Regions from separate parts of the Homo sapiens genome. Here regions 1, 3 and 4 are each reported to be linked to region 2. Evidence: microRNA targets listed by miRTarBase, many of them from high-throughput screens and not tested one by one. Region 2 holds a microRNA gene; each other region holds the end of a gene's coding sequence.
What was found. The annotated mature microRNA hsa-miR-603 reads CACACACUGCAAUUACUUUUGC and lies in region 2 at 3,325-3,346, shown strand. An mRNA with a match to its seed (bases 2 to 7 or 8) in the 3' UTR can be bound and repressed. Matches are read on the target gene's strand: a 7mer-m8 pairs with bases 2 to 8, a 7mer-A1 pairs with bases 2 to 7 and ends in A, and an 8mer does both.

Region 1 (8,267 bases), not on the chromosome of region 2:
CTTCAGATGTGGCAAATAACAAAAGTGTTGAGAAATTTAAAGGACACACAACTCCAGTCAGGCTGTGAAGTAATCCAGGTTTCTGGATATGAGACATGGTGTAACTGAAAGAGCATGGTCTGTGTGTCTGCAGTGCCTGCATTCAGCATCATTTATTTGAGCATCCACTGAGTGTCATGTGCAGAGAGGATACAATGTTGAGCAAGACAGTTGTTCACAGAGCTTGCAGAGGAGGCAGTTAAGGAGCATACAAGCAATTACAATGTAAGGATAAGATTACCAATAAAGGAAGCACAGAGGACTATGGAAGCACATGAGGTGACTCCTAATCCAGTGCAGGGTCCTTAGGGAAATGTTCCTGAAGGAAATGTTCCAGACGGAGGCCCAGAACTGTGTGATTAGAATATAGAGTAGTGAGTGATGAAGCTGGAGACAGGGCAGAAGCCAAATCATGAAGGGTTTTATAAGCCATATTAAAAGAGTTTGGGCAAACCCAAGAATATTGGATTTTTGTGCCAGCAAAGCAGTTGAAGAGCTTTAAGCAGGAAAGTGGAAAGAAGTGGTGGTGATACATCTATGGTACTTTAGAAAGACACTTTGGCTGCAGTCTTGTAGGTTAGATTGGAAAATGAAAAGACTAGAAGTATGACATTCAGATAAGTAGTTTAAGTAATCTATTAGCTGGGCAGGGTGGCGTGCACCTGTAGCCCCAGCTACTCGGGAGGCTGAGACAGGAGAATTGCTTGAGCCCAGGAGGCGGAGGTTGCAATGAGCTATGATCCTACCACTGTACTCCAGCCTGGGTAACAGAGTACGACCCTGTCTCTTAAAAAAAAAAAAAAAAAAAAGTAATGGAGATAGAAAAGTGGATGGATTTGAGATGGAATACCATAATTTAAGGGGTAGGCAAAGGATACTAAGATGTGGCCAGAGAGATAGGAGAAAAAACATGAAATGTTATCATGGAAGCCAAAATAAGAATATGCCAAGAAAAGAGTGGCTAACAGTGTTAACTACTGCTTCCAGGTCAAGGAAGAGCAAGACTGAAAATGTTTACCAGATTTATAATCGAGGAGGTCCTGGATGACCTTGGCAAAAGCAACCCCAATGGCATGGGAATGAATGGTAAGGCAGAAGTATTGGGATGCAAGTAGGCAAAAATTGTTATCGAAGTACAGAGGTGAGTTATCTAACCTAGTCTTAGAGAAAAGGGAAGGCTTCCTGGAGGAGGCATTACCTAAGTGGAGTACTCAAGGACAAATAGGAGTTAGTCATGTGGAGGCAGAGAAGGAAAATTTAGGCAGAGAATGCTACATGTACAATTGCTCTTTGGGGGCACTAAAAATAACCTTGTGACTTTGGGCAGTTACTTTGCCCATTTTCTCATCTATAAAATGGGAGTGGATAGTATTGATAGTATTTATCTCACCGAATTGTTGACAAAGATTGGGATAATTTATATAGAATACTGGTACACATTAGGGACTCAGTAATAGTTCACTCCCCCTCATTAAAGTATTACAATGAAACAAAACTTAAAAGATTTTTTTTAAATGAATTTAATCTCTCTCTAGAAACAGTGCACTGATTTTACAAATGTCCACATTTGGTTTTCAGTTTACCAAGATGATGCCAGTATAGCTAGTGAGATGCAGCACCCCATCCTCAGCCCCCTCGCCTCTGGAAGAGACACCAGACTGCAAAGGGCACCGCGTACAGAAGCTAACGGAACTTGAATGACAAGACAAAAAGAGCAGAATCAGTTAGTGTGACACAACATTCTAACATGCCTGATTCTTACATCAAATATGGTAACTTTGGGGTTGGTAGGGGGAGACAAACAAGGAGAATCCACTTGGGAACAATTTGATGAAGTTTGCAAATCAGCACTTTACCCCCAAATTAACAACAGCTTGTATGGAAAAAAAAATGCTCTTTTAAAAGTATATGGTTTGGACAGGTATATTTGTTTTCTCTTGTAGTTTTTGTAAAAAAGTATCAAAACCTTGGCTTTAAATATATATATATATATATATATACACACACACACACGTGGCTTTTTAAAAATTACTTTTTTATAGCACAAAGTGTTTGTAAATGCAGAGGGTTTCTGCTAATTCTTGACTGTGCACATGGTGCATAGCCTGAATGAACAGAGCTTCCTGATTTTTTTTTAACTGAAAAATTGAAGCAGTAATTCTTTAACCTTCTAAATTCTCCATACCCTAAAAATACAGTGTGAGAAGTCTGTTACTCTATCTTCATGCATTTCGGGAAAAGGAATTATTTACTCTGAAACATTTAATGCTAACTCATTTATATTTTGTGAAACGATGAGTGTATGGCTGGAGTTCGGGGGGTAGGGTGGAGAGGCTTGCATTCCTGTGCCATTTCCCCATTCCCACCAGTGCCCAACTGGACAGTGATTAGTATCCCCTCTCCAGACTCAACGTCTTCAACATTTTCGTTTTTCTTTCTCACAGTTGAGAAAATCTAAGAGGCTCTCGACAACATGGCATGCATCTGTGAAAATCCCACTGCCCTTATATTAGTCTTCATTGACCATATAAAAAATCTTTGACTCAAATATATGAAAAGCAGTCAGCATTTCCCTTTGGCCACTGGAAAGCTTGAGGCTGAATAATATCAGTTCTGCAAAGTGCTGGCAATGCATCCTAATGAATTTTCCATGATGCATGTAGTGCCTTGTACACAATGATCAAGAAATGCTTCATTGAATCAGAAATTAATCTATTTTATAAAGTGCTTACATTGAATCTCTTTCCATACAGCCTCATTTCTTGCCCCCCTTGAGCCTTTTGTTCCTGTTAGAATGAACTGTGCAATTCCTAAAGTCCCTGTGCTCTTTCATACCTCTGTGTTTTAGCTCGATGTGTCTCTGTCTGAAGCAGCTTGGAATCCCCTTCTTAATTTTTAAGACTTAAGGTCACTTCTATGATGACCCTATTCCTCATTTCTTAGGTGGAAAGACCCCTCTCTCCTTTGAGCCCTAACAGTGCTCTGAATAGAATCAATGCCTTTTTTGTTTCCACATATATCATCCTCCACTGCTACTGTGAACTCTGTAAAGTCAGAACATGTGTGACTGACCTTTACATCTGCAGTGCCAGGTGTGTAGTTGGTATCTAGTGAGTGGTTTTAGTGAATGAATATACTGCAGTCATACTGAGATAACTGGAGGGATCAATAGGACTTACTGCCATACATTTAAATCCGATCTCATTCTCTTTTTGCCAGTTAACAGGTTACTTCAATCTGTTTTATAAATAATCTGTGTATCAAGAGTAAATAAGTACAGTTTCGTTTTCTCTGTTTCTAGAAGGCATTTCAGTTAGTGCCTTTGTAATTCCACTGGAGGAAAGGTAGACCATAGTATAGGTAGCAGGTTTGATACAATGTTCAGGCAGCCCAAAATAGTCTTCCTGCAGAAGGAAATGGAGGAAACGCACTGGGACTGGCTTCTGATAAATTTTCTGCCCCCTTGGCATTGTCTCTGAGCTTCCTTCCAGCTCTATAGTCCAGTGACTCTGTGATCTGTGATTGGCTGTAGATAGCTATGCACGGGGGCAAAAGGCAAAAGATATGTAACTGTACCTCAAAATGAGGCTGAAAAGCCTCTATGAATGGGGGAAGGTGGATCTGACTCCTCAGGTTTCATCTTATTTACTGCCGTCCAACACATGAATATATCACAATTTGTTTCTTGTAAAGGGTTGCTCCCATTGCTGCCTCTTTCAAACTGCAGTTGTAGCATATGCAGGAAACATGAATGTCTCTGAGAAAAAGTTGTGAATTTCATTGTCATTTTGAGATCTCAGGCTGTATGTCCAGACCCCATTCATCATTTTTTTCTGTGAATGCCAGGATCTTACTGAAAGTTTAGAAACTATGCCTTAGCCACTGTTATCATTTAATTCCTTGGAAAATTCAGTTTCTTTGGAAGGTTACAGAAAAAGTCACTTGTTTTGAGTACATTTCCATGTTTTTCACTGTCATCATTTTTCTTCAGTCAAAAATAATTTTACTTTCCGTTCTTAAAAGAATAGTAATATGTGAGTAAGCTCCATAGGAGTTGGCCACCTGTTCTTAAAATTCTGTTTGGTATTGGTCATTCTAGGTCAACTGCATTTACCCTCTCAATGAATGTTTCAGGACTATCAACACATGCATGTCATGAGGAGATTGCTGGATTATGCAAAACACACTGCCCAAGCTCCAGAATATAGTTATTTTCTTAGAGTTTAGGAGGCCAAGAGTGACACAGAGGAAGGTCCTAGGTACAGGATGCTAGAACTCCAGAATGTCTGACTGAAAATTCAAAGGGTATCAAGCTGGTGAGACATCCAACTTCATTGAGTTGGGGGCATCTGGCAGGTAGGGATGGGAAGGCATTTGCTTAAGTGTGTCAAGTTCCAGGTATGATGAGATTAGATGCAGCTCCTCTGCTCCTACTTAAGTCAAACACTTCCATGTTGCACCTTGTCCCTGGTTGTCTAGTGGGAGTAAGTGGCAGAACAGCAGAGTTAAGAAACTCAAACTCTTTCTCTTTGGATGGGAAAGCCACTGGGGACTGAATCCTTCTGGGACTATAGGATTATGTTTCCAATGGGAGACCCCACAAGTAGAAAAGAGCACTTCTCCCTTCCTCCCCCAAGGCCAAGAAAAGCAAAGAAGATGTCTATAATGAAGAACATCTATACATATACCCGGAGTTTTTCCTTTTATTTACAAAGCAGTAAACCAAATTCCTGTGTGAACATAAATATCCAATATAATATAATATTGCGTATGCCATTTCCCCCCTCAAATATGACTTCAATTTTGGCCAGTTGTTCTGACTTAAGCCAAAAATTAGTTTCATCTATATGAACATATGATGGTAAGTAACCTATTTATTACCTTAAAATGTTTCCCCACATAAAGGAAATGGTAGAGAGTAAGGGGAAAAGAGAAATAAGAGATGTGATAAAACCTATTCCACCATCTTTATCTTCATCCACAGCATGTCCTAGACATTCAGTGCCTGGGCCAGTCTCTATAGTAAACTTGGGCTGATCTGGAAACGTCTCCACTTAGCTCTGTAAGGATGGCACCCTTCAGGGTGCTTCAGAGGAAACTTACTGAATTCAACCCAAGTGTCCTGAAAGAAATTGAAGAAGTTACTCAAAGAGCTGAACTTTAAAACAAGGAGTAGCTGAGGGTGAGGCATATCCTATCTTGAGTTTCTGAGCACTCTGGTACCATGGAATGTCTGTACACTGACCTTCGCCAAAGCCAAGAAAGCCCTGGTAGGAGTCACAGCAGCCATGGGTGAGCTGAAAGGCTTTTCCTGACTTCCTGGGGTCTCAGGAATAGCCAGAGGTGAAAAGATTTGCCTTTTTTACTACATAATTGCACAAACCATGGTATCTATTTTCTGATCCAGATTTCCAAAGGCTTTTCTGAAAACTACAAGATATACCCCTTGTGGACTGTGTGAAAATAAATTTATCTTTATGTATTTGAACAGTAGCCATAGATGTGCCTCTTCTCTACAGATTTTTCTGTCACACACATACACATATAAACACACACATACACACACAGAGTCTGTGTGGTGGGCCAAACATGCCAAAAATAAATACTCTCACTTCTCTAAATTATTTATAGAACTCATCTGATTTTTAAAATATGTTAATAAATAATCTAAATGGGGGAGGGAGTTGAAGTGTTTTTTTTTTTTTTTTACTTATGTTGATGGATAGCCACAAAGCATAATCATCTTATTTACAAAAAACAAATGCCCCAAAACCTAAAAAAGCCCCCCCAGCAACCAAACATCTTCTGTAAATATAGTTTTTAAATGATGAGTAAGGTACTGTGCCATTGGCCCCCATTTGGTTATGTGCATCATGTTAGTCAGCAGTAGCCATTCCACGAATTCCTCATGGGTAGTGCAACCAGTTAAAAAGTGTATAAAACATTATACATAGAAAAACTCTCACATCCTTTGGATGTTTGCAGTTCATCATAACTTTGTGGTTACCTTTCCGCAACATAAATTTAAAAAAAAAATCACACACACACATACACTCACACAGACCCATATATAGAAACCCATTCATCCAGTCATACACCATCCAGAGTGTAGTGCATGGGACTGAATTCCATGAGGCACGAAGGGGGTGATCCCATCCTCAGGGTAGTCCATCATCTTCAAGGCTTAATGCCACTCGCTGGGGAGACAAACCAAAGAATTCATCATTAGATCCATAAGAGTTACTATTTATTTAGTATTGACAAATCACAGACTTACGTTACTTTAACAGGTATTAGCTCACATAATGTTCAAACTATCCTAAGAGACAGGATTTATCCTATTTATTTTACAGATGAGAAACAAAACTCAATGAGCTTAAGTAGGGTTTGTTCTGGATCACATAGCAAGTGGCTGAACTAAAATTTGATCCCAGGTCTGTATGAATCCAAAGCTGTAGATTTTTTCATCATTCTGTTTTGTATCTTTGTAAAGAAGAGTTGCACAGATCTAAATTTTCTTAATCCTCCCTTATAGGATTTTAGGTTTGGTCAATTTCAGTGGGTTAGCTTTGGCAAATGTTAAATTTCAGGCTATGGGGTTACTTGTCTCTAGCATGCTAATCACATTTAGAAAGGTAATATACTGCACCTTCCCAACAGATTAAACACAGTTGGGAGGCAATGCAGGTTAATTAAATTCCATCCCTCTCTCCCTCACCCCTGCTTTCCAGTCATTAGGTAGATGCTAGACTCCTGTCTGCCAAAAATGGCTGACCATGGGAAGGTGAGCCCACTAACCCCTGAACCAGTCTATTCCATTGTGGACAACAGATTTAAATTCTTTCCTATATTAATGTGAAATTTGTTTGTTTATATCTTCTGACATTCCCTGATTCCATCTCAGACTCAGAGACAGTTCTACATAGGACAACCCTTGAAATTTATAGATGGTGTTTGAATTCCCTTCCGTTCATTCTGAGTGTTTTCTTCTCCAGGGTACACATCTAACTTTCCCCAGCTAGTCCTGATGTAATCTTGTTTGCCTCTTTTCCATTTCCCAGATACCCTCCTTTGGAAAGACCCTCCCCAGCTTCAGTACTTTTCCTCATAGTTATGTGAATTTGGGCCAGCCACTTTACTTCTCTGAGACTTAGTTTTATCATCTATCAAATGGGAATAGTAACAGGACCTACCTCACAGGGTTGTTGAGGAATCAAATGAGATAATGCACAGAGAGTGTTTAACATAGTACCTAACAACACATAGGGCCCAGAATATCCTAGGTCAACGTAACCAACATAAAATAGAATCAGACTAGTATCTCCCATCTCTGGACATTCTACATATGATAAAAAGTAACTCTACTGCCTTTCAAGTCATCTTTGGGTTATCTGTAGTTTTTTTATGAATGCAATGGCCATCCTCCACCAGTGTAGATATTTAAGACTATCTTATTCTAGTCTAGCTACCCTCCCACTCTCTCTAAGACAGATCTCTAGGCCAAAGATAGGCCCCAGTAGTGATGGTACAGTTATCCGAGAAATGGACAGAGGAGAGACAGGTTGTTGAGAATATTGATTTCCAGAGCTTCAAGGCTATTTACCTCACGATATAAAGGAAAGAGCATGGGCTTTTGTGTATATACAGACTGGAGTTTGAATTCTGGTTCTGCCACTTCCTGGCTATGACCTTAGGCAAGTTATTCAATTTCTATGAGTCTCAGTTTCCTCATCTGCAAAATGGGGCGAATAATATCAGCTTGATAAGGTTATTATGAAGATTAAATGAGAAAATATATGTAAAACACTGGGAACAGTGTCTGACACACAGTAGGTGCTCACTAAATGTTGATTTCCTTATTTCTCTGCAACTGGCAGAAGCTTATTACTTGGTCCTTAACACTCATCGGGAGTAACTCCCCCTGAGTCATTTCTTTCTCTGGAAATAATGTCACTTTACATGTGCAGAGTGCTTTGTAAGTCACAAAGTGCTCTCACACGTGCTATCTCACTTGTACTTTATAAACTCAGGAGGCAGGTAGAATGGGGGTTGTTATTCTCATTTTACAAATAACAGTGAGCAGAAAGAAGTGACTGAGATCACAGGGCAGTGGAAGGATGGAACTGGGAGTTTTCTTATTCCAAGTTCAGTGCTTCTTCCACTGTGCTCCCTCTGATCTTCAAAAACTGGTCAAGCAACTATTTTTTTGGACTGGCCGAGGTTAAGGA
Region 2 (8,279 bases):
TTTCATTCAGTTCTAAAACTTCTCAACTGAGCAATCTGTTGTTGAAAGGAGAGTACGAGTTCTAAAAGCTACTCTAGGGAGCTCTGCATTCACCAAGCCGCTCCATCATTGTTGGGAAGAAAATACTAAGGTTGACTCATTGTCAAAGCCACATTCTACTCAAACTCAATGTACATAACTCGAATTCTAGCCACATTCCAGCCAAATTGAGATAGCTGTTCAAATAGTCATGGATTTATTTAATAACTGACTTCGAAATTCTTTACTTCTTTCAAGGTGGCATTAACAAGTATTTCGGAATTTCAACAGAGATCGGTTTTCACGTGCTCTTCAATGATCCCTGTGAAATAAATCATATTCAAGGGTTTTTTTCCCCTTATGAGTTATTCGCCTGAAGGAAGAATTCTTCATTTCTTTTTCTTTTAAATGCATGTTGGAATAAAGTCTTCTTTGAAAAGTCTTAATGAAAAGAGCAAACGTGGAATAGCATCCACCCCAGTTCTTTCTCTGGTCCTTGCACTCTGAGAATGAAGTCTTAGACAGCAGAATGTCAGGGGACTCTCATTGCGTAAAAGTCTGTGCCCTTCTGCGCCTTGGACAGTTATGGACAGAAGCCTTTAAGAAGAAGAAAATTAAAACTAGTTAATTTTTTAGTTAATTTTAGCAACACTACATATATGAGAGAGAGAAAAGATGGCATTTTCTGAATGAATGAGATGCCTCTGCATTTTGCCCAACTCATTGGAGACTCAGGATAGAGAAAAGGGAGAAATTATGTTTAGAGGCTGATAAATTTCCCTATGGTTACTATCAAGAGATCAGACTCTTATTAACATTTGCAAAGTGTGAGCAGAGAAGAGCATTTGAACAATAAGCATAGATTAAGTACTCCTCTTTCCTTCATTCCCTTTTCTCTAGTCATATTCTCAGACAGTCCAGGCTAAGTATTAATGATCTTCTTTGAAGTTAAACATACCCTTGCTACTTTCATTACATTATTATTTTTATGTTCTTCCTTTTGGAGTACTCAAGGTAAATGACATGGCAGAATCTGTCCCAGTCCAGTGAGGGTGTCACATAAGAGGCCCTTGGCTTACCTCTATGCATAACTGGCCCACGTCACATCTTTAATTAGAAGTCCAAGTTATTGGCTGGACGCCATGGCTCATGCCTGTAATCCAAGCACTTTGGGAGGCCAAGGTGGGTGGATCACCTGAGGTCAGGAGTTCGAGACCAGCCTGGCCAACATAGTGAAACCCTGTCTCTACTAAAAATGCAAATATCAGCCGGGTGTGGTGGCACATGCCTGTAATCACAGCTACTCGGGAGGCTTGAGGCTGGAGAATCGCCTGAGCACACGAGATGGAGGTTGCAGTGAGCCGAGATCGTGCCACTGTGTTCTAGCCTGGGCGACAGAACAAGACTCTGTCTCAAAAAAAAAAAAAAAGTCCAAGTTACTGTTGCAGGGATTGGGACATCTTGCCTTTCTCAAGTTGAGCAATATTCCCAAATATAAAAATGTAGGATCTTAGTCCAATCAGAGCAGATATTTGGTGTAGGGCATTTTCTAATGTAGTACCAATAAATTAGACGCATACCTCAACCAAAAAACAGCCCATATCCAGTAAGTAATAAGGCAATGATTTACATTTCACATATTACCAGAGTAATGACTAATAGCATACATGTATAAACTGAAAAGTGACTGATGCTTATTTTCAGATGGGTCCAAATTTATTGGATAATTATGGAGAATAATGTATGTTTTCTGAGAGTTGGTAGTAAGAAAATATTGCCATTGCTGGCCAGGCACAATGGCTCACACCTATAATCCCAGCATTTTGGGAGACTTGAGGTCAGGAGTTCATGACCAGCCACCTCAGCCTCCCAAGTAACTAGAACTACTGGTGCATGCCACCAAGTCCAGCTAATTTTTTTTTTTTTTTGAGACGGAATATTGCTCTGTCACCCAGATTGGCTGTGTTCTCCATTCTAAGTCCAGTGGTTAGAAATTGTCAAGTTCTCACATCTGCAAAAAAAGTAAAAAAGATGAACCTGCTACATCTAAATATACTTTGTTGTCTTCCTACAAGTCCTATTTTACATACTTATGGCATTTTTACTGCAGTTTGAAAATACAGTCAATTCTTGTTATTCACAGTATTGATGTTCTATAAACTTGCCCTAAATACTGCATTAGTGAGTCCTGAATTTATTAGTTAATACTGAATTTCCTAGGGGAAATACAGGGTTAGGTTCCTGTGAGTCTTTGGTTACCTTTTTATCAACCAATCAACAAAAATCCTTATTTTACCTGTGTTTTTGTTTGAAGACACCTTTTAAAATATATATTATTGATTCATTAGCATTGAACTAAGCTTATCTAATGCACTTATTTTTTGTGTAAGGTGTATCACAGCCTTCTTGAGCCTAGGAATGCCAAATAGTACTTCCACACCATACTTAAGGGCCATTTCATTTTATTTCTTATTTTTAAAATTTATTCTCTTTTCTTATTTAAAGAAAAAATTTGTAGATGCCGGGTCTCGCCCTCTTGACCAGGCTGGAGTGCAGTGACACAATCACAACTCACTGGAGCCTCAAACTCCTGGGCTCAAGTGATCTTCCCACCTCAGCCTCCCAAATATCTGGGACTACAGGCACACGCCACCATGCCCAGCTAATTTTTTAATTTTATTTTTTTGTAGAGGCAGGGTCTGGCTATGTTTTTGAGGTCTTAATTCCCCAATGAACATGACTAGTATATTCCAGGCTGGTCTTGAACTCCTGTCACAAAGCAATTCTCTTGCCTTAGCCTCCCAAAGTGCTGGGATTTCAGGCATGAGCCACTGCACCTGGCTTGGACCATTTTAAATAGTGAAGTCACTCACACACACATACACGCATGCAGGTGCACACACAGACACAAAAAGACACAAAAATGCGAAACTTGTGGCACTAAAAAGACTGTGGAAAGGGTGCTTCCTTACAGTATGAAAACTGAAACAAAAAAGCAGAGTGTTGTTTAGTTAGACGCCACCTGGGAACGTGCTTGTTGGGAAACTCCAGTTGTCCACTGTCCTGCCATGTCTATGATGACTGCAAACATTTGGGAGTATTAATTTGAGGGTCACAAACAGATTTTAGGTGATGGGCATATTTACAAATACAGAATCTGCTAGTAATGAGGACTGACTGTATAATGCTTTAGTAGTCTCAAGTATGTTTTTTTTCTCATTAAGCCTTTGCTTAAGATGCAGGCAAGATTGATGCTGTTGGTTTGGTGCAAAAGTAATTGCAGTGCTTCCCATTTAAAAGTAATGGCACACACTGCAATTACTTTTGCTCCAACTTAATACTTGGCTTTATTGACTTTTAGCATCAGTGCAGTTTGGTTAATGATAAAATTTTCCAAAGCAGTGTCTCATCTGCAGGAGCAAACTATAGCAAGGGCCCTGGCCATCAGTTCTCCCTTCTGGTCCTGATATTCCTTTTTAAACTGTCTTTCCATACCCCTCCCTCCAGTGGGCTTGGCGATGTTGCATTAAATAGCAAAGAGAAGGAAACTCCTCCCCAGTCCTCACTGACCATTTCTTTTTCCACTCAGTCCTGCTCAGAATGTAGAAGAGAAGTTGAATTTAATTCATAAATTCAGCAGCTTGAGGACTGTCAGTTTTGTCGTTATTTAGTGAAATAGTAATTGAATTGGGCTACAAGGTCATTGGAATCTGCTGTTTCATTTCATATCATTTTACGTGTTATTATTCTAATAAGAATACAAATGGAGTTTGATGCCATTTGCTGATCATCCATCTTATTGATGCCATTGAACAGAACGCAGAAACACAAAGGGATTTATAAGGCATTTCAGTTTTGATGTCCTTTGAAAAATGAAAGTCTTTTCAGAAATGCAAAAGACAAAATGACTTAGAATTCCATCTCGTTCTGCCCGGTTTGAGGGCATCCCTTCCTATTCCTTAGATAGCTGTTAATAAGAGTCCTGAGGAAAACTGGGTTTGAATTTAAAAACAAAAAATTTTTAAGAGACAGGGTCTCGCTTTGTCACCCAGGCTGGAGTGCAGTGGCACAATCATAGCCCCTGTAACCTTGAAGTCCTGGACTCAAGTGATGCTCCCACCTCAGCCTCCCTAGTAGCTGGAACTACTGGCACATGCCATCAAGTCCAGCTTTTTTTTTTTTTTTTTCTGAGATGGAATCTCACTTTGTCACCGAGGCCGTAGTGCAGTGGCGCGATCTCGGCTCACAGCAACCTCTGTCTCTCAAGTTCAAGTGATTGTCCTGCCTCAGCCTCCTGAGTAGCTGGGACTACAAGCATGTGCTACTACGCCCAGCTAATTTTTGTATTTTTAGTAGAGACAGGGTTTCACCATATTGGCCAGGCTGGTCTGGAACTCCTGACCTTGTGATCCGTCCGCCTCAGCCTCTCAAAGTGCTGGGATTACAGGCATGAGCCACCACACCCAGCCAAGTCCAGCTAATTAAAAAAAAAATAAAAATCGTAGAGATGGGGTCTCCCCGTGTTGCCCAAGCTGGTGTCAAATTCCTGACCTCAAGCAATCCTCCCACCTCGGCCTCCCAAAGCTCTATGATTATAGATGTGAGCTGCCATGCCTGGCCTTAAATTTTTCAAAAGCTTTTAAACCAATCTTAAAATGTTTTATCCTCTTAGAATCATGTCCCTAGTTTTATAGCTTGGAAATTCTTGCTCTTTTCAAATTGCTCTTTAACTCTGGCCTGATTGGAAGGTGGCAGCTTTTCAAATACAGGTCATGGCAGCGCTCAACCTGGATTCCTCAGTTGCAGAAGACTGCTTTTGCTAGACTGCTGAATTTACTTCCAACTTTTCAGATGTTTCTGAGGTTGACCCTGGTGTGGTTCCCACTCAAAGTGGAGCAAGCAGGTGGGTGGCAGGTCTCTTCTTAGCGGCTTCCTAGAGGGAAGCCTCGTGAGTGGGATGGGGGACAGGTTGCCCTGGGGGAGCCCAGGAATGGGGAGACAAGGCCACCTGCTATGCAGATGATATAGTTTGGCTGTGTACCCACCCACTTCTCATCTTGAATTGTAGTTCCCATAATCCCCACATGTTGTGGGAGGAACCTGGTGGGAGGTAATTGAATCATGGGGGCGGTTTTCCCCATGCTATTTTCATAATAGTGAGTGAGTTCTCATGAAAGCTGATGGTTTTATAAGGGGCTTTCCCTTTCACTGGGCACTCATTCTTCTCCTTGCTGCTGCCATGTGAAGAAGGACGTGTTTGCTTCCCCTTCAACCATGATTGTAAGTTTCCTGAGGCCTCCCCAGCCCTGCAGAACTGTGAGTCAATTAAACCTCTTTCCTTTATAAATTACCCAATCTCAGGTTTGTCCTAATCGCAGCATGAGAATGGCCTAATACAGTAGGTTTTCCTGAGTCCTCTCTCTGACTCACCCTCTGACGGGCAAAAGACAGTGGCAGCACTGCCAGCAATCAGCTGGGAACTTCTCCCCTGTGATAGAAAGCAGTGCTTGCTGGCTTCCCTTTGTGATGCTTTTGGACAGCAGCTCTATGGACCTATGCCTTTTGTCCTTTGAGGACGGACGCACAGTCTGTGCAGCTCGAGGACGCCGTCATGGGTGAGATGCTGTGGAGTGTGATGACGCCACCTCTTAGGCTGTGTGTGAAAGTAGCGAGGAGAGGCAGGGTCTGCATGAGCCACTTTGGAGCAGGCCAAAACACTGTGGAGAAGCACATTACAGCCACAGTGGCGGTGTAAAGGGTCAGACTGACCACTGGCTTCTGGAAAGTCTTCATTTCTGAAAGACTGTCAGGTAGAAGATGGATGAGAGTTACTCTGTGAGGCCGGAAACCTAGAACTCAGACCATTGTGTGCAGACCAGGGAGAGGCAGTGTTTGGAGTGAGATAAGCAGGAATTTTGAAATTACACAGACCCGGTTTTGAATTTACTCATGAGCTGTGTGGCTTAGAGAAAGCTGTTTAATCCCACTGACCTTCATCTGTGAAGTGTCCAAAAATAATACAGAGCTTGCAGAGTTGTGTGGATAAGGGATAATCTATCGAAAGCATGTGGCAAGTGGCAGACACAATGTGGGCACTAGGCAAGTGGCAAGTCCCTTGTATTGAGTCTTATTTGTCTATTCAGTGAATATTTGGATACCAACTCTGCTGTTCTGGGCATGATGTTAGCCACTGGGGAGACAGAAGGAATGAAAGAGATGAGTAACCTAATGTGTGCTGTCTAGTGGGGACTGCAAATAAAGTGGGTGTTACCACTAGCGTGCTCTACAGTGTTATGCTAGAGAGAAATTTACTTCCTTTGGCCACTCACTTCCTTGTTTTTAAATAAGAACTGAGTTAAAGTTGCTAACTGTGAAGACTGAGTAATTTGAATCTGCTGTTGGTGTACTCAGATTACTTTTTTTTTTTTTTTTCTTGGAGACAGAGTCTCACTCTGTTGCTCAGGCTGGAGTGCAGCGGCCCAATCTCAGCTCACTGCAACCTCTGCCTCCCAGGCTCAAGCGATTCTCATGCCTCAGCCTCCTGAGTAGCTGGGATTACAGTCACGGGCCACCACTAATTTTTGTATTTATAGTAGAGACAGGGTTTGCCAGGCTGGTCTTGAACTCCCAACCTCAGGTGATCCGCACATCTTGGCCTCCCAAAGTACTGGGATTGCAGGCATAAGCCACCACACCCAGCTCAGATTACTGTTTACTCAAATTAATGGGGATGATTGAGGATGAAACAGTGCAGGGATTCCCCATTGTTTTGTTTTCTTCTTTGCATTTCTAGTGTCTGTTTTTTTTTTTGTTGGTGGTGGTGGTGTTTTTGTTTGTTTGTTTTTTTTTTTAAAAAAAGATCTGCAGAGGCTATTGTGTCCTTTGCATAACCCAAGTCCAGTAGCATCCTTGACTTCAAAGTCTGTTGGCATTGATGGCATCTGACTCAGTCATAACTATCTTTAATACATCATTATAAAATCTACAATATTGCTCAAGTGAAGATATTATCATGTAACTGGGAGATATTACTAATTAATGAGTATGTGGAAAATTTTCCCTAGAAAATGAAGTGTTTGTGAAAGGGACTGAAGGATTTTTGCAGAAGAGTCTATGAGAAAGTTATTATAAACCAAAGGGTTATGAATTCTGCATATGAAACATAAATAGCTATTAAATATTTTATTTCAATCAAAAAGTGTAATGAAATTAGAGCTTCTCATTATGAATCTGGGATTTATATGGAAACTTATAAAACTAAAAGGTAATACATTCAAAATAGAAGCACAGATTTACCAATTAACTGGAGTTAAAACTTTTTACTTCTCTTTACAGTGACAGGAGAAAAATACATCCTAAATATGTTATTATGGTAAAAAAATAATATTGCTAGTGGACAGAAAAAATAGTCGTTAAGAGGGTACAAGTTCATCTGATAGTTGCAACTAACATTCTAAGGGGGTTCTCTAAGTTTAGTGTTTGATTTTCTTAAAAACCGATTTGAAAATTCATGGTGCATGGAACTCAGTGAAGGCTCCTCTGTTGAAGAAATAACTCTCTGAAATAAAATGAACATATAGGCCCTTTATCTTTTTTAATGGGATGGCGTGCTTAGGCCCATGAGGATCGGTTTGGTAGAGGTTGATGTTCTTCCTTTATCCTTAATCATTGATGCCTCTCTAGAAAAGAAATGCTCATGTCTTTTAGGTGGAACCATAGGATATTGGTGATTACGTATGTCAAAAACAGTCAAATATCTGCAGTTTCATGTCATTCATGCTAATGAATTCTAAATTGGATGAAGACCTTGACTCACCAGATTTGGCAAGGAATAGGGGTCCGTATTTTAAGGACAAAAGGCTAGAAGCCTGTTTGCAAAACTCTAACAAACATTTTTGCTTTTCTAAGATTTCTGAAATAATCTGGAGTACACACAGGTGAATAATGTAAGTGAAGGAAAGTGAAAGGGTGCTATAAAGTAAAATGAAAAGATGCTGAATTTCAGCACTAATTTGAATATACCTAGATTCTAGATTGAAAATGACCTTTTCCGCACAGGTAAATAAAATGTTTCCATAAAGGAATAAACCTGGCCGGGCGTGGTGACTCATGCCTGTAATCCCAGCACTTTGGGAGGCGGAGGCGGGTGGATTGCGAGGTCAGGAGATCGAGACCATCCTGGCTAACATGGTGAAACCCCATCTCTACTAAAAAACAAAAAATTAGCCAAGCATGGTCACAGGCGCCTGTAGTCCCAGCTA
Region 3 (8,279 bases), not on the chromosome of region 2:
CTTCTTCACTGTGACTCAATTTCTTCACGTATAAACTGGGGATGATGATTTTGGGGTGTTACTACTGTTTTTAGCATTGGCAGACATGGTCAAGGGGATTTCCACTTCAAATCTCAAAGCTATTCTTCAATGATGAACCTTACTAGAATAATTTGTTTAGTGTAAACAAATTAATGCTTTGTGATTAGTCATCTTCTGAATAGCCCTTCTAGGCATGGAAAGGCAAACGACTTCATCTTTCTCTGGATCTTTCCACTCATGTAACCTTCTGAGCAATACCTGACTTAAGCTGCCAGATTTAGCAGATAAAAACATCCAACCAAATTTGAATTTCAGGTAGTCAACCAACATTATTTAGTATAAGTATGTTCTGTACAACATTTGAGACAGACTTATACTAAACAAACTACTCATGGTTTGATCTTAGATTCATATTTAATTGGACATCCTGTATTTCATCTGGCAACCTGATATCTGACCCCAAACTGCACAAAGCAGGTGAGCCTGGACCTGGGGAGCTAGAATGCAGGTGTAATTCCCCGGTGTACACCTCGCTCAGGCATAGTCTGCAACTGTGCTTTTGCAGGATCTCTTTTAAAAGCAAGAACAACAACAACAACAAAGAATAAAACATGCGATATTTGCAGCAAAAGACGTAACAGGAGCTGGTCTCATGTAAATATTACGTTAATTAAAACAGATGGGTCTGGAGCATAAACAAAATAGCTGCAGGGGGCTGGTTTTTGTTCTTGCTGGGTTTCTTAATATAGTAACTCAGTTTCCATCCTGTTAGCACTCTTTCCTTATCAAACATTGAACTGGGGTATAAGGAAGTTTAAATTACCAGTGATTGGAGATCCGTTTTCTAAACACTTGAAACAGATGGCTTATTGCCTGAAAAGCATGTTGAGTTTGGTTATTTCAGGAAAATGTTTTATTGCAGCTCATTTATTAACATCAGGTTTGCCATGTGATGAACAATTTCCCTTCAGCTCTGTTCCTTGCATTGAGTTTGGCTACTGAGCAAAGAAAGGTTTCATTTTTAATGCTGTCTGCCTGCTTCTTGGACATTGCATTGAGCAAAAGCCTAGTTACTCCTGTATAGCTTCTCACAGTTTCAGAAAAAGAGCAATAACCATGCAGAAGATTTTTACAAATGAATGTCATTTGAGAGCATACAATGGATGAAGTTGGACTCTCTACCAGCTGTGGCAGCAGTGGACTTAACAAAAAGATAATGTGCTTTTGGCCAGTTTTTGAGGGGTCTAGGATCCAATTCAGGACCACATACTGCACTTAGTTGTCATGCTTCTTTAGTCTTTTTAAATCTATAACGGTTTCTCAATCTTTCTTTGCCTTTCATTGACTTTTTAAGAGTGCAGAATCTTCTTAAAATAGGTTCATCTGATGTTTCCTCATAATTAGTAAGGTTATGGTACGCATTTTAGGTGAGATACTAATAAGGAGTTAGAACTAAATTTTCTAAAACCATTCCCATGCTGTGCAAGGAAGTGGGCTCAGTGTTCTGTGTGTGAAAACTTTCTAGCAAATCTTGAGTTGACAATGGTACTTCACACCTCCCATCAATCTTAATTTGAACTGAGTGGCCTAAATTTTTTATAAGATTCACAGAATCACATTTAAGAGTAAAAACGTATTGCGTTGTCTATGCATTTCTGGGCTTTCTTCTTGGAATGAGATGAGCTACTTTAGATCTGTGTGAATGGTCTGAGGAAGGTTAAGAGAGGGCAGGAGCTGTTTCTTGTAAACTGACAGTTCAGGAGAGTGAGTTGGAGATAATCACATAATCCATTTAAACCACCCAAGTTAACAAGCTCTCACCTTCTCCAAATAGGCCCCTTATTTACAAATAGTCACTTCTATACAAAAGTGGGTTCTCATTCATGTGACTGGAGTCACATGCAGAGATCTCATGGCATGATTTCCCCATACCACAAAGTTCAGTTCACATCAGGAATACTATTAGAACCTGTAACATATTATAAATGTATAATGTGAGCTTTGAAAATAATTTTTTATCTTACTTTGTAAACAAACTACCCCCCAAATAACTTGCAGCTGTGTGTCTGCCTAGTGCAATTCCAGGCTGTATCAGTAGGAAAGAAATCACAGAACAAGGCGGCTGGTCCAGCATAGCTGTGATCAGGTCAAACCAATTGCAGAGATGGGTTCCAGACCCCACATTGTGACAGACTTTTATAAACGGACTTATTTAAAGAAGAGAATGAATAGGTTGCTAAAGAATTCAAAATCAAATTACACGAGTGGCTTTTCAGGTCTGTTTAGTCCAGTCCTGGGCTCAGCCCCATCTTGGGCTCTCAGCTCCCTTTCCTCCATGGGAGAGCCCTGTCTTACCTTATCAGTGCTCATCCAGGGATGAAGGCTGTGCTTCCCTCCGACACACTTGCCAGATTCAGCCTGCCAGCTGAGACACTGGAGGCGTCCCCTCAAAAAAAGTGATGCAGGATGATTTTCTGATGGAAGAGATTTTATTCTACCTGGGGCTGTCCCTATGCCCTTCAAATTCCACATTCTGCCATAAGAATGAATTTCCTTCGTGAAAAAGCAGCAAGGTCTGTCTGTTGGCCAGGACTGTTACCTCTAAACTGCCTCCTTTGGTATTCAAAGAAGAAATATTTCCCAGCTACTGACAAAAGGGAGCCAATTGTATTTTCTGTGAATGCCTGTGGCATTAATGGGAATTACACAAAGTCATATAAAGTGGGAGAACCATGGAGCTACAAAATCCCACTCCCTACTGAGGTCAGTTACAAGCCAAAAACAACTTATGGTTTCTTCAGACCATTCTTTATTAATATAGCAATTAGTTTTATTCCATCGGGATATGTTATCAAGTAGAAACATGAAAAAGTGGGGAGTGTGCAAAATTAAATACCTTACCTCAAGGAAAAATAAGCTGCAAATAATTATCACCAAAATAATTTTTTTATTTTACTTAAAAAGACTCTGAAGGTACACATTTGGTTCATGAACACAGGGTAAAATATTTATTTCCATCTTCATTTTAGTCTAGTGATAACTATACAAATGTGGACATGGATAATGAACAGGTTTTACCCCAGAACATGACCGTGCATCAGCTGATTCGGTGTGTCTGTGGTGTTCGCTGATTTCCAATGTCCATGAATGCTCAGTAGGCGGGCGCTGGCACATTGGCCGCCCCACCACTATCAAGCCAGGTGCTCACAAAACCAGTGCCCATGTGTGATAAAAACATGCTGATCACAACAAACAGTTATTCCATGATGGGTTTTTAACTTATGACAAATATTTCACATGCAGAAACACCCCTGTGTACTTCTCTTCCATAGTCACATCTACCTTCCATTTAATGTAGGAAATCAACTGTTCCTGTTTGGGGGCAAGAAAATGCACAGAGTCATACCAGCATTTCCTCTTGCACCATATGTGAGCTTGCAGAACTGCAAAGGGTTGAGAATGACCCACAGTGACTCTGAAAAGATCTACAACCTTAAAAAGGGCAACATCCCTTCTGTGTTCTAGGCAAGTTAAAAAGGTTTTGCCAGAACACTGCTAGGCTTCATAATCTGTTGATGAATCAAGTAAGAAGAATACATAAAATTCTCTTATATGAAAATATCTTTTACTTGAAGAATATAAATCATAACAAATACTGAAACATTTAGTAACAGTTCTTAAAAAAAAAAGGTTTTTGTCATTAATTCCCCGGACCAAAATTTACACATCAGGAAAGAATTCGGCACTTTGGGGCTGACTCTTTTGGAAATCACTAAGCTAACATTTTTGACATTTACAAAGTAATTGGTCCAATTACAAATGAATTTGACCAATCACATCTCTGAATTTCTGGGTCAGTGACGGCAACAGGTGAATTCAGAGGGGAAGTACCAGATTTGGGGGATGAAAAGATTCATTTAAATAGCATCTCCGTTTACTGAGTAGCAATCACATTCTCTCACAGCCTGACAATATTTGCTTCTCATGATAAACTGACAACATCACTTTATGAAACTGCATGACAATGTATTGGTTAAATATTTCCTGGAACATCTACACTTCAGTTAAAACTGTACTATTTACAAATCAGAAAATATACTACAAAGCATGCTTGTAGGCACAGCATGCCTGCAAGACACAAATATACAAAATTATGGCAAGCTATGGCAAGATTCCTTAAACCAATAGAATATTCTGATGCAAAAAGAGAGAGATGGAAATACAGGCCATATATTATATGTGAGCCATACTCTGAAGCCCAGAAGACTCTCTATCCAAAAGGGAATCACAGACATAAAAATAAAATATTTGGTATTCTACAATATTTTACAAAAATAAATATATCAATCAATAAATAGTGGGAAGCCTAGAAACTCTTACATGAATATTTTGGCTGTGGGCTGCCCAAGTCCCTCTGCTATAATTCTCCTCAAGAGTTGTTTAGCTATATCAACTTCGGTGATGATAATTCTGCAATAAAAGGGGGAAAAAAACTGGCATGGGACCCAGAAGAAGGTCTATGACCAGAGAAACATTAGTAAGATTCTACCTTTTTAAGGATCTGACAATATTCTGGCTTCCTGTCAATGCAGGAGTTGAAAGTGACACCGGTGTGCTGCCGGGGTTCCGGTGGGAGCTGGGAGAACTCCTCTACGGGCTGTGTCTTTTCACTTTCTGACAAAAAGCCAAAAAAATACAACTAGCAACATTTGAATAACAATATGTTGCTCTCTGCACTCCCTTTCCACAGGGAAGCAGAAAATCATAGAAATGCAGGTTTACATCTGGATGGGCAGAAAGAAACAACTGGGCTATGCAGCCTGATCGCCAACAGCCTATATTTTCATATCTCTTTAACAGAAGAGTGACTATAAGTGCTCGAGACAAGATTTCTCCAGAAGCCCGGAGCCAGCAGCGCACACAGTGGAAAGCAGGGCTGGCACATCCTTAACATTCTAGTATCAGGGTGCTAATGTCAGCGGTGTGCTAATGTCAGTGGGATACTAAATGTCAGCGGTGTGCCAGCACCAGTGCACAGCTCCCAAGAGCTGACTTAGGTTTTAGAAGTTTTGCAAGCCAGTTGACATCACCTTGGCAGCTCAAGATAGACCATGTAGGAGCGTTTGCAGCATTGAAATCCACAAATCAGGGCTTTTTCTCCCCCTGGATTGCTGGTTGTAAGGGTTTTACCAGCACACCACTGTCATATGTATTAGACATAAAGAAAATTTGCTTAATTTTTATCTAACCAGGACTATCCTGGTCAGCTGAGGTTTTACTGTGTATGTATTACAGTGTCCTTTAGAAAGGATAAGAAGTACCTTGGAGTATGTGAGTATACATTGTGTACCATGGAGTATGAAGGATGCACCACGTTCCACTGAGGGTATTAAGCGTGGTTATTCAAAGCCAGCTATACATCACACACACATACACACATCATGTTATATGGAGGCTGTTCCACAAATAGTGATTCTGAGTTGCATGGCTTTCTCAAAGCATCAATCACTGTATACCCACTGACGGTCAAAACACCACTCTTCCATGAGCAATGAATTCCCCAGGATTCACCCAGCAGACAACAGATCTAGCGAGCTGAGGTTCAAATTGGGCCTTCTTCAAAATAGTTTTCCTTGCCTCTATTGTCTAGTGCAGTTTGAGTTTATAACCTTAAGAGATTTGTAAAAGGGGACTGATTGTTTTCCAGGGTAAAAAAAAGAAAAAAGTGTCAGACTTCTTAAGGAAGCATTCCTTAAGATGAGTAGGGGTGAATGGGGGATGACGTACTGGAAACCACATTCCTGGTTCTAACAGGAACCATCCATGTTCCCTGCCTGGAGATGCTGGAACAGTTTGGAAACTGCTCTGCTCTGCTCTGGTTCCTCCTGCACAAAGCCCAGAATATGCTTGCCAGGTAGAGGGAAATGGTTAGGGGTTAAGACTGGAGGCTGCCACCTGCCAGGAAAACCCACCGGACCCTTCCTGTGCAGAACACTTCCTCACCACTTTCAGTCCTGGCCAGTTGCAAAATGGGAAGATGGTAAGATGAGAAGATGGGAAAGTTACTGGGTTTCTACCATGAAACAATCATGATTTCAAAATTCAGGCTTGGCTTTTGAGTCATTTGCTTGTGTGTCTATTCATAAATTCGTTTATTTAAATCCATTCATTTGGACTCTGGTTTTCTTTTTCTTATACTTACTTATTCTGGTTTTCTTTTCTCTTATATCTAAGTATTCTTCATGAACAAAACATTTGATAAAGGATATTATTAAAATAAAATCAAATTAAATATCACGGGAAGATTTAGAAATTAGAACACTAACTCCTTTCACCCTGAGAGCAAAGGCACTTAGGTGTCCCTTTCCAGTTCACAGCATGCATCATGAAGGCCAGGGAAGAGCAGGGACACAGGGATGGGAGGAAGGTGAGAGGCACTAGGGCCAAGAAGAAAGAGGGAAGGAAGAAGATGGAGCAGAGGAAAGCAGGGGTGCTGAGACAAGGGAACAGTGTTAACAGGTGAAGAAAGATATTAACATCCTTTCTTCCAACAGACAGACCCCTTCTGATTTTCCTCCTCTTAGTCTTTGATACTTCTATTTTGTCCAAAAGATTTAATTCTTTAAACAGAACCACTTTTGGTTTTACAGACACATCTGAGGATAGCCTCTGAGGATAACATCAATATCCTCTTCCCTTTCTCCCTTTCTCCCCTTCAAGTACCCTCCCAACCCCTCTACTCTCTGCAGCAGCAATGGCCAGTACTCATGGCCTTGCTTTCCTATTGTCTCAGGAACAGATTTCATGCTGGTTTCTTCTGTTTTCCTGCCTTGACCAGGAGTTGCCCTCTGGAGCACATTGGTCCTCCATGGGTTCATTTTTTCCTGTTGTACCTCTAAGACCTCTTAAGTCCATTTGGTTTCTGTATCAATTAACCCTTCCCTTCAAGCATCCTTTGCCAGGCCCCTCCTCTCTGAGCAACTACAGAAACTCAACTGACAAAAGCTACACTTACATTTCCAGAGTATTTAGGAAGGGTAATACTTCCTAGGATGATTAAAACCCTGATGTCAATTATCTTGACTTAAATCCTACTCAGAGAAGAGGTAACAGAGAACATACCATTGGCCTTTAATATGCATACATTTGAGTGAGTCATGCATGTAGATGAGTATAACCTGCCTGCATAGAACCAAAAGATTTTTGTAAGTTCATGTATGTACAAATATACATACACAAGTGTGTGTCTTTTGACACTGTATTTTGCCTAGGGGTTGTTTTCAAATCAACAGGGAGGTGGCATTGCCAGGAAATGGCAAGTCCAAAGAGAAAACAGATTGAAAGGGACTTAACTGGAGAGGAAAATATGCATTTCCTACAACAAACTGACCTGTCCATTTCCTGAAGGCAGCAAGCCTCTATTACTGTACACCCTTATTAAATAATCTCATTAAATAGGAACACCAAATATACACATTTACAGTTATTAAATAAGCCATAGGACTCTTCTTCTATCTACAGCCACATTCGGAGACGGCCATGCCTTCGTATTTAAACTTGTAGGTGACGACGCCTTTGTCTAAATAGAGGATGGAGATGGGCTCTAGCTTTGTGGGCACACAGCAGGCTTTGGAAGCTTTCTGGGAATTCTTGAGGTGGACCAAGGCCTGGATAATTGCATGCTTTGTGGGTGTGAGATGCTCTGCCAGGGGGTAGTTACAAACACCACGGCATTCATAGGCTTCGTATCCAGGCGGAGCGATGATCCAGGAGTCCCACCCAATCTCCTTGAAGTCGATGTAGAGCGGGGTCCTCTTACAGTAGTTTCCTTTGGCGTTCCTTCTGATTCGGGCAGTGGAGTCATAGATGATGTTTGATCTCATCTGCAACAAAGCCTCTTCCCCAGGTCCACTGGAAAAGCTATCCAGGCCCAAGTTGTCCAGCTCTGGAAGTTGCTCATGGGAAATCATTTCATTCAGTTCCTCCTTCCTCTCCTTGTCACTGCTTTGGTCATCAGAAAACACGATGAGCAAAGGGTTATGCTTATTCTGGGCACTGGTATCTATTTCTAGCCGTCCACTGCTGGCATCCTCAGCTTCATCGTGTTTGCTCTCAATGTGGACCTCCAGCTGGTGGGTGGATGAGCCTGACTTTTGCCAACGTCTGATGGCATCTGTGACATCAAAAGTCTCCCACTCACTGTTGGTTCCATATATCTCCCCAGACACCAAGACCAGCATGTTTCTTTCTCCCTCATT
Region 4 (8,279 bases), not on the chromosome of region 2:
ATAGGCAAGGCTAACCTCAAAAATACGATGCTAGGCCAGGCGCAGTGGCTCACACCTGTAATCCCAGCACTTTGGGAGGCCGAGGCAGGCAGATCACTTGAGGTCAGGAGTTCGAGACCAGCGTGGCCAATGTGGTGAAACCCCATGTCTACTAAAAATACAAAAATTAGCTGAGTGTGGTGGCAGGCACCTTTAATCCCAGCTACTCGGGAGACTGAGGCAGGAGAATTACTTGAACCCGGGAGGTGGAGGTTGCAGTGAGCCAAGATCGCACCACTGCTCTCCAGCCTGGGAGACAGAGCAAGACTGTCTCAACAACAACAACAAAAAAAGGTGATGATGCTAAGTGAAAGAAGTCAGCCGCAAAAGATCACAGATTACATGATTTTGATTTCATGTGTATGAAATGTCCAGAATAGGCACATCTATGGAGACAGAAAGTTGATTCATGGTTCTAGGAGCTGGGGGCAGGGAGGGAAGGAATGGGAATTAACTGTAAATGGGCACAAGGGATCTTTTGGGGTTATAGAATTTTTTAAATTGGATTGTGGTGATAGTTGCACAACTCTGTACTAAAAAATACATTGAGTAAAAAAATGAATGTACAAATGGACAATTACAGTGTCTAGTGGTATGCACTTGGGTGATAAAGCTGTGATGAACTCTAGGAAGTTATTACTATAAAAAGCAGTATAGAGGTTACTTTTGCAGGGGAGGAGAGTTGATTTGTATAATGTACACAGAGAGGCTTTTAGGGTGGATACAGGAGATCTGTTTCTTGACCTGAGTGGAGGCTATAAGGCCTCCTTACAAAAATTTGTTTTATATGTACTTGTGTGGTTTCCACCATGTTTTATTTTATAGTAAAGGGTTTAAAAGAAAAGAACGAGGCAAGGTGGCTCACGCCTGTAACCCCAGCACTTTGGGAGGGCCGAGACCAGCCTGGGCAACATAGGGGAAGACCTTGTCTCCACAAAAAATGTAAAAATTAGCCAAGTGTGGTGGTTCATGCCTGTGGTTCCAGCTACTCGGGAGGCTGAGGCAGGAGGATGACTTGAGCCCAGGAGTTCGAGGCTACAGTTAGCCATGATCACACCACTGTACTCCAGCCTAGGCAACAGAGAGAAACCCTATCTCAGAAAAAAAGACTCCTGAGCTGTTAGAAGAGATCAGATCCCCACACATTTCATTCATAGTAATGAGACTATTTCTCATGAGCAAAGTCAGAGTAGCCAGGAAAATGCTGCTTTACCTCACAAAGGAAAAAAAATGCAAAAGAGATGCAGCAGTTGGTTTAATTTCTTTTGGGTGTACACTGCATGATAAATGCCATTTGGACCTCAGAGCCTATTTCAAGCACTGCAAAATAATACGTAGGCATTCTTTTCTGGTAGGTCCAACTGCCCTGTGATTTTCAATTTTATGCACAAAAACTTATGTATGACTATAGTAAAGGAAATGGATGGAGGAGGAAACGTCAACTGCAATCCCACCCCCCTGGCAACTCACAAATCACAAATTCATAAATATTTTTTCTTTCCTGTTTTTGGATTGCAGGGGTTGTTTGATGGTGGTGGTAATGTTTTTGTTTAGGGGCTTGGGGGGGGTGGGTGTTGGCCATTTTTGCAAGAATTCTCTTCCAAAATAGAATTCATTCTGAGGGGCACCTTTTATGATTTTTGCCTTCTTGTGGAAACCACTTAGAGCATCCTTTCGTACTATTTTTTAACATGCGATATATTAGGTAATGCAAGTTCTCTCCCCGCTTCCGCCGGGCTCAGGGTAGGCAGCTGGCTGTATTCCTGTTCTCATTGCATGTGGTTGTGCTCAGAGTGGAACTGAGGCCCCTGACGTTACTTATTAACATTCCCTCAATTTCTCACCTCCCTTTCTAATTTTTCCACTTTAGAGGAATTCAGAAAAGCAGCTCAGCAACAGGAAGAACAAGAAGAAAAGGAGGAAGAGGATGATGAACAAACACTCCACAGAGCCCGGGAGTGGGATGACTGGAAGGACACCCATCCTAGGGGCTATGGGAACCGACAGAACATGGGCTGATCTTCCCACAACACCACAGGACTGCAGGGTGCACAACTCCCCTGCCAAGGAAAACCATGCAGTCCTCCCCTCCCTGGTCTCCTGCTTCAGCTCTGTACAACGAGGGCAAAGATGCTAAATCTTGCTTTGCATTCAGTAAAGTGTCAAGTGATTAAGTGTGTATTTGTACCCTAGATGATATGAACCAGCAGTCTTGTTTTGGCATCATCCTCATCATGTTGTATTCCAGCTTCTTAAGTGGAAGGAAAAGAGTGCTGAGAAATGGCTCTGTATAATCTATGGCTATCCGAATTCTCTGAAAAAATAATAAAAGTCCCCTCTATTATATGAGCCTGTACAGAAATATGGCTATCAGCTGCTTTTTTTTTGCCGGGGGAGTGGGGACATTTAGCTGTGGGTCTCTGGGCTTATGGGGAGATGCCCTTTGATGTGGGCAGTGAATTGGTCCAGCATCAGATCTGCCCAGGCATTCTCCTTCCTACTGGGCATATGATATGAAGCCATATAAGTAGCACCCTGCACCATGAAGCAATCCAGCACTCTACAAGGGGAGATCATAAAAACCAGAGCTTTCCCTGGTACACAGCACTATTCTCAGAAACTATAGCTGTAAGGTGAATGGACCGCAAAGGGATGTAGTCTACTTCCCAGTCCTATCTACCTCGTCCTAGCTTGGCCAGAAGAAATGAGAGATAGAGGAGGCACTCTTAAAAGTCATCCTTGTGTATGTATCTGAGGCCAGAGCCTTTACTCTCATGCGTTTACCATATATCCCTTAGGGTGAAGAGTAGCCTCAGGCCATAGCCTTTTTTTTTTTTTTTTTTTTTTTTTTGAGACGAGTGTCATTCTGTTGCTGGAATGCAATGGCGTGATCTCAGCTTACTACAACTTCCACCTCCCTGGTTCAAGCAATTATCCTGCCTCAGCCTCACAAGTAGCTGGGATTACAGGCGCCCGTCACCACACCCAGCTAATTTTTGTATTTTTAGTAGAGACGGGGTTTTACCATGTTGGTCAGGCTGGTCTCGAACTCCTGACCTCGTGAGCCACCCACCTCGGCCTCGAAAGTGCTGGGATTACAGGCGTGAGTCACCGCACCCAGCCATCCTAACTCTTCAATTGGCCCTTCTTGCCTATGCTGTGAGATACTTGGCACAATCCAAACTAATGGCCTGGGTAAATGTGCTGTGGTGGTCGTTTGGCTGCTTAGTGAGGTGCCTGCAGTCACGCAGATAATGGGTGTGGAGGAGGGGGACAGTACAGATGACACTGCAGGGTACCTACTTTCTGGGGAACAGAGAAGACAGTGTCCTCAGCTCTTGCGTTGGCATCCTATAAAAGCAGCCATGTGTTGAAACAAATGATATGCACAGAAAGCATACTTCTGTGGCTTTGTTACACGGGTTTTCTTTCAAGAGGAAGATGACTCAGCCCTCCCAGCTTCTGCAGTCTAGCTTAGGAGAGGTGTTTGAAAAGGAGACTCAGTTCCCTCTTGTTTATAGGGTGGTTAGTGGAGGGCTGTCAGGTGATGAGGGGGAGGTTGTGTTTCGTGGGAGATGACAGAAGACTACCAATAATCTATTTGTATACTGCTTAATGAGGAGTCATCTCACCCTCACAACATAAGCTCCTGAAACTGGGAGAGCACAGATTAAATCCCCCAAGGATTTGGAAAGCAACATTTTCCGCTCTCTTCCAGTGGCTGCCAGCCTGCCTCTAGCAATGGCCTATTTCCTGTTTTTGAAACTCCACCCTGAGTTTATTCCCAAATGGGCCAGGTTGGAGTTACCTCTTGGTCCAAGTCCGTTGAAGATTGGGCCTTCCAGGAGGCCCAGCTCAGTTAAACAGCTTCACACATCCTGATATCTAACAGGCAAACCAGACAAGGTGGGTTTGAATTCTGGCTTTAAAAATTGCAGGCTGACAGAAAGACAAACTTCGCATGTTCTCGCTTATTTGTGGGAACTAACAAAACAATTGGACTCATGGAGATAGATAGAGTAGAAGATTTACCAGAGACTGGGAAGGGTACTGGGGTGGGGATGGGGATGGTTAATGGATACAAAAAAATATAATGAATAAGACCCACTATTTGACAGCACAACAGGGCGACTATAGTCAATAATAATTTAATCGTACATTTAAAAATAAAAGTGTATAATTTGTAACAAAGGAGAAATGTTTAAGGGGATAGATACCCCATTTTTCATGATGTGATTGTTATGCATTGCATGCCTATATCAAAACATCTCAGGTACCCCATAAATATATACACCTATGCACCCCCAAAACTAAAAAATAAGAAAATCAAAAATTGCAGGCTGTGTGACGTGACCTTGGGCAATAAGACTCTGAGCTGCCTTTTCTTCGGTGTATGTAGATAAGCTGTCTCCTGGGGCTGTGAGGATTAAATGAATAATGGCACCTATTATCTGTAAACTCAGGCAACTGAAGAGTAAGTGCTTTCTGTTAGCTTAGTGACTGCAGTCTGTCCACTGAGAAGGGAAAGGAAATGGACAGATATTGGGCCCCTGGTATGTGCCAGGCACTTTCCCACACTATTAATACAATGACCCTGCGAAACTTGATTTCTTCAAGTTCACACTAGTAAGATGTTATGCTGCTGTCATTTTCCATGTGCTTCCCAATTGCTTGTGCTTTTAGCTGTGTCTTAAAGCTGCTTCAAAGAGGAGCAGCTTTAGAAATCCAAACTAAAACAACCATGTCTACATCAGTGGAGCTCTAGAAATTCCTTCTTAGCTGACTCACCAAAGCAAAGGTTATGCCAGCTCCCCCGCCACTGCCCCCTCAGCTGGGGGATAAGAAGACGGAGGTGGTGAGCAAGCTCATCTTCCTCCATTTTCCTCCCCAGTTCTGTCTGCCTGAAGGCCGGAGAAACCAAAAAAGCACCACCTTCTCTACTCCCACCAGAGGCGAGTTCTTTCAGGGTCCTAGAGTGAGCTGGGTTTGCTGGATTCCCGGAAGCAAAGACTCTTAAAGTTCTCAATGATAGTACTGCTTCATAGTTTGCAAAACACTTTCACATATGCTGCTTATTTCATTCTCACAACCTGTCAAGCAAGATCTGATATCTTCACACAGCTAAGAAGTAGAGCACGCAAACAGATCAGCTTAGCCAAAGTATTTGCTCTCTGCGGCCCTCACGTGGAGGCCAATTAGATTTGGAAGAGGAGAATGCTAGGCACTATTTCCTTTAATGCCGTTACACACTGATTTGTCCTTTCCACTCTTGTTCCTCTCAACACCCCTGTGAGAAAGGGCAAGGGGAGAAATGAGCTGACTTCAAACCCAAGAAGTTGGAGTTAGAGTCCTGAGTCAAAGTCTCAATTCTGGGGGCTCTGCCACTCCCAAGCTGGGTGGCCCCAGGCAAAGTCTTCTGTAAAACCGCCTCTCTGTGTCACCCAAACCCCAGAAAGTCCTCCTCCGCTGACCCTGCGCCTGCAGTTTGCTCATTAGCACAACAGGAGCATAGCCACCTGTCTCTGTTGGGCACGCTACAGCAATAGGGTATTGTTGTCACTGTCTCCTTGCAAAACAGCTGTCCCCAAAACCTGTGCATCATTTCCTCACAGATTCCTTTTAACCCACTCATCAAAGGTGCAAGTCAACAGGGCACGGTTCGTTTCTGTCCATCACAAGGAGGCGTGGGTTCTAGTCCCAGCTCTGTCACTGTCTTAGCCCCTCTGAGATGGCAGCCAATATCTGCCCTACTTACCTCACAGGCCAGGGTGGGGAGCAAATGAAATCATATAGGCAAAAGCACTTTGAACAGTTATAAGACACGACACAAGAGTGACGAGTAAGAGCAGCAGGCTGTTGGTAAGCTGGAGGGACGGAGGAGGGGATGCTTTTTTTTTTTAATTTTGGTAATAGAGAAGGGGTCTCCCTGTGTTGCCCAGGCTGGTGTCAAACTCCTGGGTTCAAGCGATCCTCCTGCCTCAGTCTCTCAAGTAGCTGAGATTACAGGTGTGAACCACCATACCCTGCTGATTTTTGTATTTTTTGTAGAGATGGGGTTTCACCATGTTGCCCAGGCTGGTCTCGAACTCTTGGGCTCAAGTGATCCTCCTGCTTGGCCTCCCAAAGTGCTGGGATTACAGGCATGAGCCACCGTGCCCGGCCTTTTTTTTTTTTTTAAATTCAGCAGTTCACGACTTAAACCCTTGCTCCTCCGATGCTTTCTCAATCAGTCTTCTAGATCTCACCACCAGCCAAGAGGTTTGTGACATGCTTTTCTTCATGTGCTGAAATGACCAGCAAAAAAAAAGAACTATGCACAGTGAAAACTGGGAACCAGTTTTTACATATCTGCCTGCCAGGCCACCTTTGACAAATGTATGTGAAAAGATGATGGGCAAAGTCTTAGATTTCAGTGTCTTGTTCCAACTGGCAACAAATCCCTCAAAGAGAGTAGAAGTGAGCAATGTCTTAGGCTGGCCTAGTCCAGTGTGGTAGCAGGAATAAAAATTATGGCTACTGTGTATTAAGCACCTACTATATACTAGGAGCTTTACATACAGTATTTCTAATCCTCACAACACCCAAGGGAGATACTATTATAGTCTCAGTCTGTCGATGAGGAAATTGAGGTTTAGAGAAGAGATTTCCCAAAGATCACTAAGCTCTAAGTGGTTGAGCTGGGCCTGGATTCCAGGTTGGCCTGAGGACATATGAAGGTAGGAAATACATCCTGGTGGTACACTGCTCTGGGGATAACCCCTTCCCTTTCTCTGTCCAAGTTTTGAGCAAAAATTCCTGCTGGCCCCTTCAGGGACAGTCTGAGACCTGCTCACTAGGGGCAAACCCCACTCAGAAATCTACCCCTCCTGGGGCCCTCGCATCACTCAACCCGCAGTGGAACATTTCTGCCCCCAATGCCAAGCCCACCTACTTTCCCTTTCCCTGTCCAGCCTTACTTAGCTGGTCTTTGTTCAAGTAAATCTTTTATTTTTATTTTTATTTTTTTTAGAGACAGAATCTTGCTCTCTTTCTTAGGCTGGAGTGCAATGGTGCAATCACAGCTCACTGTAACCGCGAACTCTGCTCTCTTTAACCTGAATGCCATCAACTCATTTTTAAAAATAGAGACAGCCTTACTATGTTGCGCAGGCTGGAGTGCAGTGGCTATTCACAGGCACAATCTTTGCACACTGCAGCCTTGAACTCCTGGGCTCAAGCGATCCTCCTGCTTCAGCCTACTGGTAGCTAGGATAATAGATACATGTCCACACCCAGCTATTTTTTCTATGTTTTACTTTGTAGAGATGGGGTCTTGCTATGTTGCCTAGGCTTCAGGTAAACCTTTTAAATATTTTCTCCCAGATGCTCATTCAGGGGTTCCTACATGTTTTCTAAGCCAGTCACAGCATCTCTTCATCTACCAGGCCTTTCAGGACAACTAAGACCAGACCCAGGCCATGCATGCATGGGGTTTGGGAGACAGGGGCTGGGAGGAAGGGTTTCTGCCTGAACTCTGAGGCGCTTCAACACTCAGGAACAGATACAGCCTCTGCTACCCTGGTGCCCTTGGCCCTGGCTCAGAGGTGTTAAGAGATTTGCAGAAATAAACAGCTTTATTTCATCTGTCTTCCCCTTTCCTTGTCTAACTTCTCCATTCCACCTCCGGCTTCCCTGTCCACAAATATACTGGCGGCTATCACTAGCCCTGGCTGTTTCACTGAGCTCCCAGACCTGTATCCTGCCATCTGCTATACAGCTACCCTTGATGAATAAACTGAACTCAAACTCCCCAGTCTTACAATGAACTCATCACATTCCCCACCCCTCTCTCTCCATCAGAGCTTCTTAATGTCCCCATCACCTACTTAGTGCTCATCCTCAGAAGCTCACCATTGTTTCTGGCTTTTCCTCCTGACAAAGCAAGCATTCAAATGTCTGCTGAATGAATTACTGAATGAATGAGTCCCATCATGAATCACACTTCATCAGGCAGATTCACAAGAATCCAGCCCCTTTCTTTTCATATTCAAACAACTTTACATAAAAGAAAACTTTGAATGCCTTCACCTTAAAGCAGCAATCATTTCTGTCTCAGGCTGATGGATCAGTTCCATCTATCACTGAAGAGACCAGTTTTTTTGGGGTTTTTTTTTTTTGTTTTTTTTTAATCAAGTGCATTCAATGTGGAGGTCTGCTTTATATTCTGCTTTTAAAACTTAGCATGTAATACTACAGTCTGC

Region 1: miRTarBase lists LRP8 as a target of hsa-miR-603. Seed matches in the 3' UTR shown: 7mer-A1 at 5,597-5,603, 7mer-m8 at 4,221-4,227 and 7mer-A1 at 2,038-2,044.
Region 3: miRTarBase lists BMP10 as a target of hsa-miR-603. Seed matches in the 3' UTR shown: 7mer-A1 at 5,453-5,459.
Region 4: the mRNA of IGBP1 is a reported target of hsa-miR-603. Seed matches in the 3' UTR shown: 8mer at 2,213-2,220.

The regions. Positions count from the first base shown.
Region 1 is chr1:53,240,821-53,249,087 of GRCh38, forward strand. It overlaps LRP8 (LDL receptor related protein 8), which reads right to left. Exons shown (of 19, transcript NM_004631.5): 19 at 1,544-6,236. The coding sequence ends at 6,198. It overlaps MAGOH-DT (MAGOH divergent transcript), which reads left to right. Exons shown (of 3, transcript NR_038953.1): 2 at 1,027-1,125; 3 at 1,618-1,963. Among named protein-coding and RNA genes, the nearest start is that of MAGOH-DT, 6.3 kb to the left of the region's middle.
Region 2 is chr10:24,272,421-24,280,699 of GRCh38, forward strand. It overlaps MIR603 (microRNA 603), which reads left to right and starts at 3,265; the gene lies at 3,265-3,361. The region is part of intron 2 of KIAA1217; the gene reads left to right.
Region 3 is chr2:68,858,099-68,866,377 of GRCh38, forward strand. BMP10 (bone morphogenetic protein 10) reads right to left here. Exons shown (of 2, transcript NM_014482.3): 2 at 2,811-8,279. The coding sequence ends at 7,533. Among named protein-coding and RNA genes, the nearest start is that of BMP10, 9.2 kb to the right of the region's middle.
Region 4 is chrX:70,163,924-70,172,202 of GRCh38, forward strand. It overlaps IGBP1 (immunoglobulin binding protein 1), which reads left to right. Exons shown (of 7, transcript NM_001551.3): 7 at 1,910-2,401. The coding sequence ends at 2,058. Among named protein-coding and RNA genes, the nearest start is that of DGAT2L6, 9.4 kb to the right of the region's middle.